2 separate regions of the Homo sapiens genome follow, and region 1 is linked to region 2. A link means that fine-mapping ties the variant in region 2 to the expression of a gene that starts in the linked region. Tissue or cell type: whole blood. Region 2 holds a variant in brackets; the other region holds the start of a gene. All regions are shown on one strand. Distances are between the middles of the regions.

Evidence for each region. PIP is the estimated chance that this variant, and not a neighbour inherited with it, causes the effect.
Region 1: it holds the start of SSBP2, and the variant in region 2 is fine-mapped to the expression of SSBP2 in whole blood (TOPMed, PIP above 0.99).

The regions. Positions count from the first base shown.
Region 1 is chr5:81,748,661-81,754,024 of GRCh38, reverse strand. SSBP2 (single stranded DNA binding protein 2) reads left to right here and starts at 2,928. Exons shown (of 17, transcript NM_001256732.3): 1 at 2,928-3,044. The coding sequence starts at 2,983. RefSeq lists silencers at 2,027-2,376, 2,647-2,976, 3,147-3,196, 3,637-3,686, 3,907-4,066.
Region 2 is chr5:81,783,061-81,788,439 of GRCh38, reverse strand. No RefSeq gene overlaps it. Among named protein-coding and RNA genes, the nearest start is that of SSBP2, 35 kb to the right of the region's middle. The variant A/G (reference allele first, on the strand shown) is at 2,961.

The DNA.
Region 1 (5,364 bases), 34 kb after region 2:
CCCATAGGACTTCCAAATGTAACAAATCTGGGTAAAAACCAATCAAATGAATAAATTATAGCAGTAGACAGCAAACAGTTTCTCCTGTTCTCTTTCTTCATTTTCCTTTCTCTATAGGAAATAGCAAATTAAACCATGGCTATTCATGATCTTGTACTATGAGAACACATATGGGCATACATTTTTGTCCTATTAACAAGTTTGTTGGCTTGGTGGCAGAAAGTAAAGTACACTGTAAAGACATCTTAATGCTTTGAGTAGGGTCATTTGTTAATGGACAGCCCAACCTAAAAGTCTTGTACTAATCTCTTATGGTACCCATTGGCTGTCTTTAAATGGATACTGAAGAGCAAAGGCAGGCAGCCCTGGTTATACACAAGAACCACGTGGAGCTTATGAAAAAAATGCAGGTACCTGGGTCCATCCCCAAGGTTTCTGATCCAGTTAGTATATAAACAAACAAACAAAACCCAACAACAATGAAAATAAAGGCAATTCTAACGTGCCATGATTGAGAACCATAGTTAAGAGAGTCCCAACACCAGTGCAAGGATAATACCTACTTTGTTTTTGGATAGTAGGACAAAGCCCACCCTTGGTTCGTTTTTCCAGGGGCAGGCAGGAGGGTGTCTGAGAAGCTGCCAGAGCTCTCTGAGAACTGACAGCATTCTCTGAGCAGCACCTTTATAGGGAGTATTCTATAAGAGATGGAGCCTTGATATACTAAAAATTTTCTGGGTTAAGGCCAATGGAAGTAGATAATTGAACAAAAAAATTACATAATGCTAACCTTGAAGTTGAGTCTGTAAACTGTGGCAACCTTATACACATTTGAGCATTTTGAGCAAAAGTTCATTAAGAGAGGCTGACTGGCTCAGCTTCGCTTCAATCACCCAATCATTGCAGGTCATTAGAAACAAAAAGAAGAATATGAATGCCATATCCTAACCACCCAATAACTGTAGGTCATTAGAAACTGACAGAAGAATTCTTAAGTCAGAAATGGCAAATTACATCTCTTGGAAATTAATCTACTTAAGCCAGTGTATTTTTTTCCCCCACTTTTCCCCCCTCATTTCCTTTATTGGCTTAATTTTTGTCCTTTTAATAAAAGTGCTTTTTTTCTTATATCTTTTTTTTAACGATAATGTCTGTCCTCTATTACTTTTAATCTTTTGCTATCACACTCTATGGCTTCTTCATTTAATCCTGTATCTTCTAGTCTTCTCATCTTTTTATACCTCACTTTCCTCATGTTTTTTTCCTTGTCATTAACACCAGTATAGAAAGTCCTTCCTCTTCATTTTCCCGTCTTTATGTCTGGTTGCCAACCGCGTTTTTGATTCTCGACCTCTCACTTTTGCTAACTGCCCTTCCTTAATCATCTGTTGATGTTTTATTCCTATCACTTCTGTCAATGCTCACACCCATTTCTTTCCTTTCCATCTATCTGTATATCTCCATATGCATTTTATGATCCTCCTACTAAATGCTTAAAGCTGTGTGTGTGTGGAATAGAACGGTACCTTCCTCCACGCGAATCCGATTTCCCTCTCCTCCCATAGCTACTTCTTGTCTATTCATCCTTTCCAGATGTCGCCCTGTCCCACCCCATCTGTCCCCTTCTTCCCCGTGTGAAGCCCATCTTCTTTCTAACCCCATTTGCACCCGTCTGATTTTACAGTCAAGGACTTCAATAAGATAAATGATGCAGAGTTCTACTGGGAACCAGATTGTGTGTGTTTCTGAAACTTTTGCGCGTTTACTGAAATGGGATTAGGGATTTGGATACAGAAACATTCTCGGGCAGCCTTTCAGCCCTGGCACAGCTTTGTACACCTTGGAGCGCGCTGGGGCCTATTCTAACGGGCAAGGACAGGGAAGTCTTTCAAGACCTTTTCTGGCCTTTTCCACTCCAGGGGTCAGGATGAATAGGCATCACTGACCCAAACTGTTAAACCAGGCCGGGTGGGGAAGCCTGGGGCCCTCTTCTGCGGCAGATCTGGCGGGGTGTCCAGGGCGCCGCGGGGCTCCGTGCAAGAAGGGGTTGGGGCAGGGGCCGCTGCGGCCGCAGGAGTCACCGGGCCTCCTCGGGAGGTCCGCTCACCTCTTACAGAGGAGGCCGACCCCAGGCCGGGTGCTCCCCTGGGGCGCAGGGCGCGGCCCCGGGCGCCGCCACCGCAGCGGCGCCGAGGGCCGGAGGTGCAGCCTTTCCCCAGGAGAGAAGGCGAGTCGCTGTCGGTCGCTCAGCCAGAAGGTCGAGGGAACCGCGCGGGTGTCCCTCGCCAGCCGGCCCTCTGGGAACAGGGCGGGGGCGACACCCCAGGGAGTAGGGCTGAGGACCGCAAAAATCAATCGTGGGTACCGGCGCGGGGTCACGCATAGGAGAGGAGCGGGAGAGGGGCTGGTGGGGGCCCCAGGGCGGCTGAGGCCGTGGCTCTGTCGTGGACTCGGCGGGCGCCCCGAAGTCTGGGGCCGCCACGGCTCCAGCTCCGCCGGCTCCGGCCGGAGACTCCAGGCCGCAGTTTCTCCTCCTCCCGGCGCCTTCTCTCCAGTGAGGAGCTGAGCGCGGGCGGCGCGGGGGGAGGGGTGGCGGCGGAGAGAACAGCCAGTTGTTTAAAATCCTTCTAGAGCAGTTTCTAATTCCCCCCTTGCGCCCGGGTTCGGAGGGGGGAGGGGGAAGGAGAGCGGGTGGAGGGAGGAGAGCGGAGAGGGAAGGCGGGAGGGAGGGAGTCGGGGAGGGAGGGAAGGAGGGAGGAGACTGCCGCTGAGGCTTAGCCGCCACCGCGCGCTTCGGAAGGCCAGAGGGAGGGGGAGGCCTGTCAGTCTCGCGCGTTGCCTGGGCGAAGGGGGCGGAGCTTTGGCGTGGGGCGGCCAATAGTGGGGGTGGCTGCGTGGGTCGCCATGGGGACGGGGCTGTTCCCGGGGAGGCTGTGATGGGTTGACAGGTGCGTGACAGTGGGAGCTGCTCTCGGCACAAGCATGTACGGCAAAGGCAAGAGTAACAGCAGCGCCGTCCCGTCCGACAGCCAGGCCCGGGAGAAGTAAGTGTCTCCGCTTCTCACCCACCTCCGCCTTCACACGCGCGCACACTCACGCACGCACTCGCACACTCTGGGAGACACAGACACTCTCCGCCCGGGGAGCGCCGGGGGTGGGCTGGCAGGGGGAGGGGTGCCGCGATGGGGGCGTGTGGTGCGGGGAGCTGCGCTTTCCCGGGAGGTGCGGGCGCTGGGCGGGCGGCCGCAGGGGGCTGTCGGCGGGAGGGACCGGGTGTGTTGAGGGGCGGCGGTGGTGCTGGTGGCGAGGATGGAAACTTGTTTGGGTGATTGAGGGAAATAACCCGCGGGTTCACCTTCCAAAGTAACTTTAGAGCTGGGGTCCGGGGCTCCGGGGACCTGGGGAGCCGCCGGGGGTGGCGGGAGGGGCAGCTGCGTGGAGGAAGGCGCGCAGTGGGAATGTGGGTGTTTGGCGGGCCGGCCGGGGTCGGGGCCGGGGTCGGGGCGGGCAGCGCGGGGAGCGCGGCGGCGGGGGCCTGGGCGCTGGGGCTTAGGGCCGCGAGCGCGGGGCGAGGCGAGGCGAGGGCGGCGGTGCCGGGCGCGCGGCGGGCGGAAGCCGGGCGTGGAGCGGCCGAGCGGGGCCCCGCGGGGCGCGGAGACGCGCGCGGGGCGCGGAGGGCGTGTGCGGGTTGGGCGTCCGGGCTTTCCTGGGCCAGCTACGGACGCGGCGCCCGCAGTCCCCCGCGCATCGCGGGGCTGGGGCTGGGGCTGGGGCGGGGGCGGGGGCGGGTGGGCGCCGGAGACGCCGCCGAAGTTTGGGAGTCGGAGAGGGACCGAGTTCCCGGGGAGCTAAAGTGTGTTGGCGAGGAGCGGGATCCGCTGGAGGAGGCTGGCGTTTCTGCCTCTCGCAGCGGACCCAACTCCGCGGCGGCGGCTGGCGAACTTTTTGTGAGGCTGGCAGCCCCCGAGCGGCGGGAGGGGCGGGCCCGGCGGGGCGGTGGTCGGGGGCGCGCGGAGGGGAGTTGTGGGAGCCGCCGGGGGCGCCCGAGGAGGGCAGCTGTGGCGGGGAGGGCCAGTGGTCCGAAAAGGGGTTTGTGGGAGGGGAGAAGCGTTCAGGTGGGAAGGAGCCGCTTGGTTACAGTTGTGGGGAGATACAGGTGTTAACTTCGGTGGGAGCCCAAGAGGCGGCTGGCGAGAACAGAGCCCCTCCCGGCCCGGGATGCCACTGTCACGGCACACTGCAAAGCAAAGCGGTTTGCTGCTATTCTTGTGTACTTGTAACGGTGATTTGGTTGTTACTAAAAATGAGAACGAATAGTGACTGTGATCACTGAGGAAGAACCCCCCCCTTTTTTTTTTAAACTGTGCAACAGATCAGTGATTCCCAGTAACCACTTAAACTCTGAGGGTCAGAGTTATCCTTGTCGTTGAACGCACCCTGTCTTTCTGAGGGGGTTCAGACCAGAGAAAAAGTCTGAGAGCATCTCTCAAAGGTACTTTGGTTACCTTGCGCACAGAAATAGCTGCGTAAATAAAAACCGAATGCGCAGGCGACTGAGTTTCCCTCCTTGGTTTAGGCAGTTAGTCTCCCCCTGAAAGTTTTGTGTGCCCTAGGGATGGGAACATTTCCTAATCTTTGTGTTGGCAGCAACACACTCAATTCCCATAGGATTTAGAGGTATCAGGCCTTGATGTAGCAAAGCAAAACAAAACAAAACAAAAATTAGAGAGGCTTTTTTGTTTTTTTGCAAGAGATATTTTCTGAGCTGCATTCAGGATCTTGTTGCTGTGACAAGTAGTATATAAAAGACATAGCGTTATAGCCTGGTTAAGAAACGGCAGTTACTAGAATTGAAGTTTTGAAATGCAGTCTCATTTGTGTGCATTAATCATTTTGTTATAATGTGCCTGATAAAAACATCTGAAGGAGGATGTTTTAATGATCACAGAATATTTGAATTTCACATTAGTCAGAGTGATTGAAATGTATTGAGGCATGATCTTATTTTGGGGGTGACTGAATTTGAGAATCAAAGTAATTTTAGATTTTAGGTGAACTTCCAGGAAGGGGTGAACTTTAGTTGAATCCCACTCAGTATCCTGAGGACTGCTTGATTTTTTTTTTTAGTTTCTCAGATAATAACAAGGATGTTGGAACTTGCATAACTGTGGTCCTTTCTAGCTCTAATTCTGTGATTTCCCACCAGGAAAACAAATAATTGCCACTTTGCTGTCAAATCTACCAAACTGAACACCAAGTAATATCTACTCTCGTGAGCAGATCAGGGTTCTGCTAGATGGTGCTATTTGATTTAAATATATTTCTTCCATTCATTTCAATTGGCAGCAGGAATTCTTGACTGGT
Region 2 (5,379 bases):
TCTTAAACCTTCACTCCAGACTGAGGCGGACAAGGGGCCTCTTTCTAATTACAGATGACTATTAGCAACCAACAGGGAGAAAGAAAGAAAAATGAAAACAAGAAAAAAATGAATGAAAAAGAAAAGCACTGTAATCCTTTGCATTATCAAAAGTGATCAACAGTCGGTTCTTTACAGGCTGTGAGAACAACATTTCCACATTATTTTCCAGTCACTGCTACCAGCAGAAACTCCCTATAGAAGGAGGCTCATAGCAGCTACACACAGACAACAGAGAAGGAAGCTGCTTGGTATAGCCGTCACCTTCAGGACAACAGACAGCCAACAGAGCATTTCACCCTGAAGGTGTACGTGTGATTACACAAAACCCTCACTTGGTCATTTTTTTTACGTGTTTTAATAATGCTGATGCAAAATAAGAGTAAAATTACAGGTGCCAGTTCCCATTGTAGAATGCTGATAAACAACTTACCATTTTGCAGTGGCTGGTCACATCTGGAGCCTTTTGGGATGCAAAAGTACTGGAAGGATTATTGCAAAACTTAAAGACACTTTTGCTGCCATTACTTTGTTTTTAACCTAAATTAGTGTGGGTTTTCTTGGGGGGGTGCTGGGGGGATGCTTTTTTAGATAGTCTTAATGCTTATATTATAAACTTATTTAGTTAAACACTAACCAAATAACAAAATGAAAAAGGGGGTTAGGTTTAGAGTAGTTGCTTGAAAACTTTTCCAAATTGACCTTAAATAGACAGAGGCTGGTATAAAACTATGGATTGGTGGATTATGACTTATTAATTTTGGTACTATCAAAATCCTCAATTTAACCTGATGAAACTTGATTTGTCACTGTTGATATCTCTCTTACAAATGTTGAATTAGCATGTAATGTGCACAGTGTAAGAATAATAATATAAATGGAAGTGCATTGTTCCTATTCTTTATGGAGCTATGGTTTTTCATAACCACAAAAGAACATTAACATAAGAATATAATGTATTAGGGTATAGTTAGTATTTTGACTCTTTTTTAATAAAACTCTTCTTTTAGGATATAAATATTTCTCTGTATTTTGTGTCTGCTGCAAGGTAATTTGGGCTGGTACCAGGACTAGACATGGATGGGTGGAGAGAGTCTGGATCTTCCCCTTTAGGGTTTCATGATTCTTGTATGTTTTCCTCAGGTTGCTTCAGGACTAATTCTGCTTGTGTGTAGCTAGTAGAGCATGATCCCCTTGCCTTCTTTTCTTTTCGTGCTCCTCAGTTGAGAATATGCAATCTAAATCCTTAAGGTGCAAACTAGTCATATCTACCGAAGTCCAGCTTCCAGCAGATTCTTTGCTATATCTAGCATGTACGAAATCAGACATTTTAATGAACGCATGTGTTTTCCTGTAGTGTTACGTGGACTGACAGGCTGTGGAGATGTCTGAAGTGATTTGGCTGGACTCATTGCAGTCCTCCAGAAATCATTTCCTGTGGCATCATGCAGTGCATTTCTCCTAGGATTTCCTTGTCAAGAATATTCCTCTTTTAAGCAAAATAATAACTTATGGAGCCTAATGGATTTTATAGCTGAAGATTGAAGTAGTGTGCCCAGTATGTGAAGCATTCTAGCTTTCTTCATGCAAATGAGCAGATATGCTTAACAAGTCAATCTTGAATCTATTTGGTGAAAAAAGCCACTCTGTTGGCTGTGTGCTATTAGTACATGTAGATACAAGCACACACGGGCTTGGACGTGTATTAGCATCGGATGTTACTTCACTGAGAAAGTGATCTGTTGACCAAAATATGCATATCTGAATGGAAGCAGGCCTTTGTGGTGCTCTTTTCAATTCTAATCTGCTATGGTCTGAATGTTCGCATCTCCACAAAATTCACGTGTTGAAATCCTAACCCCCAAGGTGATTGTATTAGGAGGTAGAGTCTTTGTAGGGTGATTAAGTCGAAAGATCAGAGCTCTTATGTGTGGGATTAGTGCCCTTATAAAAGAAGCCCCAAAAAGCTTATTCTCCCCTTCCACCATGTGAGGACACAGAGAGAAGGCGCCATCTAAGAGGAAGCAGGCCCGTACCAGGCAGCAAATCTGCCAGCGCCTTGATCTTGGACTTCTCAGCCTCCAGAGCTGTGAGAAATAAATTTCTCTTGTTTATAAGCCACCCAGTCTATGATATTTTCTTATAGCAGCCCGAATGGACCAAGACAGCTATTTAAAGCCTGTGTAGTAGGAGACTTTCTGGCTGACTCGGTCAAGAAGTCAAAAAGAGATTTCTGTTTTCTTCCAAATCATGCTTATTGATTTGGAGTGAAATTCAGTGATGGGCTGTAAAGTAATAGGACTCACATAGTGAGTCAGAGGAAGGAGAAGATTAACATTTGTTGAGTACCTAATATGTGCCAAGCTTTTTTCATAAATTAACTCATTTATTCCTTACAACAAACTGGAAAGGAAATATTGTTACTCTTCATGTATAGATGAGAAAACTGAAAGAGAGGTTAAATAACTTGTCCAAGTCCAGAGTTCATATTTAGAAGAGCCAGAACTTTAATTTGGGTCTAACTCTAAAGTGTACGGTGTTTCCAACTATAGTGTGCTGCTTTCTGTGGCTTCTGAAACGTTATATAGGGGGACTCAGAGGGAGATAATTCCTTTGGAGGAAAACATCTCATATTGTTTGAAGTACATTTTCAAACCTACTTAGTAAACCTATGTGCTGCAAAGTGGGCCTGTTCCTCAGTTGTCTATGGTCCCATCTGCATTTTACATCTGGAAAAGCATATCTGGAAAGAGTTTCATCCTGGTAGCTACAAAGGACAGTTGGAAACTTCTGCTTTTTGTACAATAAAATCTGCAGTGGTCTTGGTAACGACCTTTCCAATTGTGGTATTATTGTTTTAGCTCTATTGGTTACGAGGAAGAGTCATTCCAAGGGAGTTTATTGTGAGGTTAAAATGGGCC[A/G]TCTTCTGGCCATCCTAGGAAAAAAAAAAAATCGTTGTATAGTCCATGGGCTGGATTAAGGACCGGACCTAGAACTAAGGTACTTCCTTTGTCTCCCCTGCCACCCTATGGCACTTTTTCCTTTTTTCTGGAAATCTGCTTCTTCTCTTATTGCTCCTCTCTGTACCTCTGCTCCATTCTCCATTGCCTTCCGCCTGCTCATCAGCATGCTCATGGTTGCACATGGCTACCATAGTTCTCAATTTCTTATGATCAGCATATTACTGTCTGAGGAAACTCTTAAGTCTCTTTAATTTCAAGAGAAGATCTGAGTCCCCACTGCTATTGAGTGTCCTTGCTCAGGTGTCCATCCCTAGTTCACCAGTGTCACTAGCGAGGGTGGCACAAACTTGACTGCTATGCCTACCACTTTAGCAAAGGTTACAGGTAAGGGCAGTTTCTGGAGAAAGGGGCTCTGAGTAATGCAGACACTTCAAATACGTCTCCAACCATAAACCAAAAATATATAAATGTGGCTTTATAGTTTTGGGAATGTTTTCATATAATCTTTGATCTGGAATAATTTATCCCTATTTTATACTTAAGGAAACTATGACCAACTGGTTGGATGATTTGCCCAAGGTCATTTGGCAAAGTAAACTAAAGACGAAAGCTTAGGTTTCTACCTGATTAGTTTCCACCATATTAGGCTGCCTCTTTTTCTACACAAATGTACACAATTTATGGAAGAAAGTTGTTTTGTTTTATTCTTTTTAATCTACAGTTTAATTCATAATTAGCATTCATGAATGAATTTGTTAATTTGAACCACAGTGGACTTTGGCTTCTCTTCCTAGTACCACACTTTAGTGTTGTACCTGAAGATTTGTATTGTACTCCACTGGAAGCTTGTGAATTCACTTTCTTATATTGGTATGGCACAAACTTGTAGGAATTATGGCTACTACAAAAAGGAAAAGTTGAACAGTTTGTTTTGGGCTGGAGAGTAATTGAGTTCAATTTTGTACAGGTAATAGAGTATGCCTTTAAATTATCATGTGCAGTATTTTGGAGATGGAACATTTTGGTTAAGGGAAACACCAGCTCCAAAAAAGTGGGGATGTCCTAAAAGACCATCATTAAAATACATAGAGAAATGAACCCTTAGTCAGGGCTACACCTGAACACATTTATGCTAGTTTTTTTAATGACTCCTGAACATCAAACCAAAAATCAAGAAAAAAACTGAAATGAAAATGCTCAGTTATTCTCTTTGCCCAGAGACAATGCAATTTCCCTGTGCTAAATTCTGTTAAATTTTCCAAAACTTGAAAAAGTGGTAACATTTTAAAGATGAAAGGAATTTGTTCCTTTCCTCAAGAAAAGAACAGTCTGGTGTAATGGACAAATTGAAATGCATCAAAATATAAAGTGCCTCTTTATTTCATTCGTAATGGACATATCTGTTGGCAGTGGCCACCATGGCAGAAAAGAGATGGCAATTTTTCATGCAGGAACATTACAAATAAATTCCTGTATGCTTGAAATGTCTGGAAAAGTCTGTGGAAATGGACCTTAAATGGTTACACAGTTAACATTCAGATATCAAAGAATTTTGCAAAATAGAAACTGTTTAAATATTAAACATCAAATTTTCCTTCTTTCAAAGGACTAATAACTTAGCAATAAAAATTGTCTTTGAATCTTGCCATCACAAGGTCTCAGTCAGGCAGTGGATTTTAAATGAAAACTTGCAGGCAGCTCTTATTTAAGCAAAATTAACAGCTGAGCAAAGAGGAATGAATTAGTAGACTGCCCCAAACTCACATTGACCAGACAACAGTCCACCTCCATTGCAGCACAAGCCTCTCTGTGGAGCTGCCTGCAAAGCGAAACCAGGATCAATGCTGTCAGGGAAATGCTTCTGCACAGAGGCAAGGCACTAATCAAGTTCTCCTGCAGCTGCTAACCTGATCCCCAACCGTTAAAGAAGAAACACACAGCCATGAGAGAGGAGCAGATGGTGGACAAGGAATCAGAGAAAGGGAAACAATAATGGGGGAATCCGGGGGCATGAAAATATTGGGCCACCCCAACAATAAAAATCCCTTTGTCCATAGTGATCAGGAAACGTTTTATTAAGATGTTCTCAAATAGGCTCACCCACATGAGGCAAAGGGTAAGGTTTGCCCATGCAACACCTGAGGCTGTTTCTGGGTAGGCAACTGGGGCCTTCGTACCAGTTTCCAAATGGGAGCCCTGTTACTGAACCAGAGTAAGAAGGCAGGGCCCAGTCAAAAGTAGCAGGAGTCATAACCTGGGAGGAATGGAAAGTTAGGAAACATCAACATATTTTTTTTTTCTGTACAATCATGTGCCGTAGATAAACGTTTTGGTCAATGACTACATATAAGAAGGTGGTCCCATAAGATTATACTAG